Regions from separate parts of the Homo sapiens genome. Here region 1 is linked to region 2. The links come from fine-mapping of genetic effects on gene expression. A gene starts in region 2. The other region holds a variant in brackets. All regions are shown on one strand. Distances are between the middles of the regions. Region 1 overlaps WWP1 (WW domain containing E3 ubiquitin protein ligase 1). Region 2 holds the start of WWP1 (WW domain containing E3 ubiquitin protein ligase 1).

Region 1 (3,038 bases), 88 kb before region 2:
TCCTCACTTGGTAAAGGGAAAAATAATAGTATCTACCTCAAGGGGTTATTGGAAGATAAAATGAGTTAATACCTATGAAGTACTTAGAACAATCCTCGGCACACAGTAATCACTACATAAATAGTTTACATGCTGCAAATCCATTGTCAAATGAGAGCAAAGACAGCTATACTAAGGTTTCACTTGTGTAGGTTTTCTTGAACCAAAAAGTAAAATGTTTTGCTAAACTTGAGGATAAATTAGAGACTAAATCTCATGTGCTCACTAAGCAATATTTAAAGGAGAACTTCAGGTTTTCACTCACACAGATGACTTCCCATTGCGAGGATCTTTGAATGTTGTTGTTCTTGTGTTATGATCAACAAAGTACCTTACACCTTCACGAGTATATCTAATTTCCCAGCCTTCTGGCAGGGGTTCTTCATTCTGTAAGCTAAAAGATAAAGTTAAAATCACAAGATGAACCTTTTCTAGGTACTAAAAATATCTCATTCAAGGTTGGTTGGTTCTACCTACTGATATATGCAAGACGACTTAAGGCTGCTGTATATACATACCCTTGAGTTCTTGGATCTTCCCACTGGGTTGTTTTTGTGTTATGATTCACAAAGTAAACCCTGTCTGTTGAATCCACTCTTTTTTCTGAAATATAAAGTGAGTATAATATTTAATAACTATTTAGGATCTATATATAAAATAAGGAACACATATAATTATATATAATATATATTATATATATAAAAACATATCAGGGATATATGTATCCCTTATATATTATAGAATATATTATATAGAATATAATATATATTATAGAGAATATAACATATATTATATTATAGAGAATATAATATATATTATATTATAGATAATTATGTAGAATATAATATATATTCTATAATATATAATTCTTTAATATATAATCTATTCTATATATTCTGTATATTATATATATAATACATATATATATCCCTTATAATATACATATATATATCCCTTATAATATATACATATATAATATACATATATATCCCTTATAATATATAATATATTTAATATGGATTATATATTCTATATAGTATACAGAATATATAACATTCTACAGAATATATAATATATAGAATATATAATCCATATTAAATATATTATATATTATAAGGGATATATATATGTTAAGGGACATATATAAGGGAGATATATATATATAAAATAAGGAACATATATATATATATATATATATATATATATAT[ATG/G]GAGAGATATATATCTCCCTTATAGATCATTAGCAAAAACAGCTTACCCCAGCCTGGTGGCAAAGGTCCATAAGGGTCATTTTCTGCAGCTAACATTGAAGCCTGATTGGAGAAAAGATTAGGGAGAGAAATAAAATAACAGTGTTTTAATATGAAAGTAGAAATAAGCCAAGCATGTGGCAGAATCACATTTTATAATAATTTTCTAAAAATATGATAAGGGGTTGGGCGCAGTGGCTCATGCCTGTAATCTCAGCACCTTGGGAGGGCAAGGTGGGAGGATTACTTAAGCCCAGGAGTTCAAGACCAGCCTGGAAGATCCTGTCTCTATAAAAAAAAATTTTTTTTTAATTAGCCAGATGTGTTGGCACATGCCTAAAGTCCCAGCTACTTGGAAGGCTGAAGTGGGAGGATCACTTGAGCCCAGGAGGTGGAGGCTACAGTGAACTGTGATCACACTACTACTGCACTCCAGCCTGCACAACAGAGCGAGAAGCTGTCTCAAAAATATATCTATATTATTATATAGACAGATAGATAGGTCCACATTATAAGGAAATATAGCAATTTCAAGACACAAAGTTCTTTGTTTTTTGAGACAGGATCTTCCTGCTCTATTACCCAGACTGGGGTGCAGTGGCGTGATCTCAGCTCACAGCAGCCTCTGCTTCCCGGGCTCAAGCAATCCTCCCACCTCAGCAACAACCGAGTAGCTAGGACTACAGATATGCGCCACCACACCCGGCTAATATTTGTATTTTTTGTAGAGACAAGGTTTTGCCATGTTTCTGAGGCTGGTCTCGAACTCCTAGGCTCAAGCGATCCACCCGCCTCAGCCTCCCACAGTGCTGGGATTACAGGTGTAAGCCACCGCTCCCAGCCAAGACACTAAGTTCATAAAATGTCACGAAGAGGAGACTATCAACTATCAAATTAATTATTAGTTTTTCGAAAATGATTTAAAAATAATACACTGGCATCAATACTTTACTCTCCCAGTCCTTCCATACTAATCTATAGAGGGAAGATGAAATGGGAGAAGAACATATAGGAAATTATGATGTTTAAATGAGGCAATATTATTTGTTTAAAAATAGAACAGTTATCACAATTTTCTTTAAAACAAATGCCCACTAATAAAACTAACACTCAACTCCAGTATCATTTATAGAAATAAACTTTTAATTAGTATCTTTTATATTTTCATACATACATAAAAACACATTTTTATGTATGCCTCCATTCTTATAACCTAGAAATATATTCTGAAGAAAATATAAGTATTCTATCAAGAATTCTATAATAATGACAAATATAAAAATCATTACCTGAAAAATAATTTCTTAAAGTATATGCATCTTGATGAATATAATCTTGTAACAGACCCAGTTAATTATACTCAATATTTATCTTCCACCTGTTCTTGAGAACCAAAACCCTGTTTTGTTGGAGGTAGAAACGTGGCCATAAAGATCATTCCATTCCCCCTTCCCTGCAGCTGAGTTGGTAGAGTGACCAATTCTGGCCAATGAGGTATAGGCAGAAGGCCATGGTGAGGGCATCCTTCGCTAAGTAAAAAAGGCAAGGGCTTGCAACAACAGAGCCATCTGCCCTTTCAATTCCTCTTTCTCTTTCTTCTTGCCTAGACTATGGATGTGAGGCCCATAGTGCAGAGTATATAAACGAAGTAACAGGCCTGAAGTGCGATATGGATGGCAGAGCAAAAGGGCAGAAAGAACCCGGGTCCTTGATGACACTACTGAGTCAATGCAGCACTTACACTTTTACC
Region 2 (2,729 bases):
CCACTACTATTACCAGTAACATTTTAAAGCAGAAACACAAAATCTTGTTCCACATTAACCTACACACACACAGAAAAAAATTTGTTAAACTTATCAAATAGAAAAAGAAGGCAAAATCAAGCCCCTGGAAAATATTTTATTCTGAAAGAGTAAAAATGTCAAAATTATAACAGACACTACTCTTCTTTGGTAATGAAGGTTTCATATATTTACCACAGCAGAGAAAACTCCAAATCGGCAGAGCAAAGAAAGGACTGTGAACAAGACTGATCATTTAAAGGTCGTAAAGGTAAGGAGCAAACTACAAAATTAAATTTTTTTAAAAAAAGAACACGAAGATGAAAGGAGAGTCTGTAAGTCACAGACAAGATAAGGACTGGTAAAATCTGCAAGGTCACTGGAACCTACCAGGTCACAAAAGGTGGAGGTGGGGGTTGCGCTGGGGGGGCGGGGGATGGGGAGCTGCAGAGTCGGTGAAGAACGGAGAGTGATAAAAACATGTCAGAAAAAGACGTTCCAAAGCTGGAGTCCTTGGTTTGCAACGCTGAAATTGGGGTGAAAGTCAGGGAACGGGCAATGAGTCCATGTATTTGTGTTTTCAGGGAGGTGTTAGGGAAAGGTGGAGGAAGGCGAAGAGAAGGCTAAGGAAGCCTAAGAACTGCGGCTGCAGAGTCACGGAAACACTTCGCTCCGCTCCAGGATCACTGGCACAGGCCTTTGCCAGGGCGAACTCCGGGCAAGACCCGTGACCCCACCCCAGAAAACTCCCGACTCCCGGGCTGGAGAAGGTAGCCAAGGTAGGGCGGACCGTCCCCCGACGGGTCCTAGGAGGGTCCAGCCCGGGGGCGGACGGCGCCGGGCGCCCAGCACCGCGGCCAAGGCTCAGGGCCCGTGCCCCCTCCCGCCCTGCCCATTCGCACCCCCAGCCCCGCGCCGCGCCGTCCTTACCCGGCGCGAAGCTGTCGGCTCCCGGCAGCCGGGCGGCCACGGCAGCGGCACCTCCTCCTGCGGCGGGCGCCCTCACCCTTCCGCGCCCAAGATCGCCATCTCGCAGCAGGCGCGGCGGCAGCAGCCACCCAGGCGTCGGCCCCGGCAGCCCAGGCCGCCAGCAGCCACTCGGAACCCGCACGCGGAGCTCGCCGACACCCGACCCTCCCCCCACCCCCACCCCGTCCACGCGCCACCCCCAGCCGACCCCACACCTCCCTTCCTCGGGAGCGCGCCGCGTGGCCGCGTCGCCGGCGCCGCGCCCTAAGCGCGCGCCTCCCCGCCGGCCCCGGCACCGCGCGCTACGCCGCGGCCGCCCAAAGCCTCCAACTCCGGACCCGGAATCCGCCTCCCCCGAGCATGCGCAGCGAGGGCGCTCGGATGCTGCCTTAGGAAAACTCCGCTCCTCCGGGTCTTCCGAGCAGTCTAGCGGAGGGGGACGGACAGCCAATAGTAGGGAGGGGCGGGGCCTGAACGTGTGGAAGGGGCGGGGCCGCCGCTGAGATTTGGGAAGAGGCTGCTCTAAGCTCGCGCTGGGCACTGCTAATTTGACTTTCCGGTCGGCGGCTGATCCCGGAGCAGGACTTCTTAAGGTCCGGGGGCAAAAGTAGGCTGTCCATAAATACTCCTTGACCTAGCTGGGTGACCTCGAACACATTGCAAGAGTAAATAATTGCATTTAGCCATTGGTCATACCCGAAGACTTTCAGTCCATTTTTTATTAATCAAAACGTTCATCTGTGGAAGCCCCACCACCTAGTCCTCACTCACATCAGCCCGGTGATAAAGCAGATACTTATTGACCGAGTATACGTGTCCGCACAATTAACGCACACAACAATCTGACAAAGTAGTGTCTACTGTCTGCATTTTACAGAAAAGTCAACTAGTTTAGAAAAGTACTGTTGGTTATGTGTATTGCTTTTAGAAGAAAGGCCAATGTGCAAATAGAAGTCAGTGGGACCACATTGCTTACCAGGTGACCCGGTTTCTACTTCAGAGAAGCAGAAGCCTTCAGGCATGGATTTCTACAGCTTTTGCCCAACCACCTGACCAACCCCCATAGATTATATCTACGTCCACACCCAGACTTACTAGTTTTCCTTCTATCTCGGAGGCTAGATGTCCCTGCTCCTCTCCACTGCCTGCTCCCCACTGTGGGCGGTCCTTGGCACATCTTTAACTTCACCCTCTCCACTGCCTACAACTCCTCAGCATAATCACGTTTTAAGATTAGGTCCTAAATTTTCCCTTGATTTTAAAACCTCTGGTTCTCTCTCCCCTTCCATTTTAACTGAGCTTTTTGAAAGAACTGTGTACCAAAAACAACCCCAACACTTCATGAGTGTGTACAGAATTCAACAAGTATCTCTTGACTGAACAATGCACATTCCCGCCTACCTCCATGCATTAGTTCTTGTCCTCTGGCTTCATAGTTGAAATTGGTGCACATTATATCCACAAAGATCATTCGAAAATATACATCTGTGTCATTCCACTGCTTAAAATCATTCTTTGGCTTTTCGGAGCTCTCCTGACAAAGATTAACGTGATATTCAAGGTTCCTTTGATGCTCACATGCTCTATCTCTCCTGTTATGAAAAACTCTTCACAGTGCCCCATATGTGCCCACTCATCTCTGCTTTAAACATGTACTAAGATTTTCTTCATCTTTTTGCTTTTGCTGTCTGGTCCCTTTAAATAGATGCAATAATGTGCTTACAAACACGTCCTCAGAAATT

Evidence for each region.
Region 1: its variant is fine-mapped to the expression of WWP1 in regulatory T cells (Bossini-Castillo 2019, PIP 0.95).

The regions. Positions count from the first base shown.
Region 1 is chr8:86,429,010-86,432,047 of GRCh38, reverse strand. WWP1 (WW domain containing E3 ubiquitin protein ligase 1) reads right to left here. Exons shown (of 25, transcript NM_007013.4): 12 at 1,297-1,351; 13 at 558-642; 14 at 305-433. Among named protein-coding and RNA genes, the nearest start is that of RMDN1, 78 kb to the left of the region's middle. The variant ATG/G (reference allele first, on the strand shown) is at 1,248.
Region 2 is chr8:86,341,150-86,343,878 of GRCh38, reverse strand. It overlaps WWP1 (WW domain containing E3 ubiquitin protein ligase 1), which reads right to left and starts at 1,332. Exons shown (of 25, transcript NM_007013.4): 1 at 949-1,332. It overlaps WWP1-AS1 (WWP1 antisense RNA 1), which reads left to right. Exons shown (of 6, transcript XR_007060994.1): 2 at 219-289; 3 at 603-797. RefSeq lists a silencer at 782-1,241.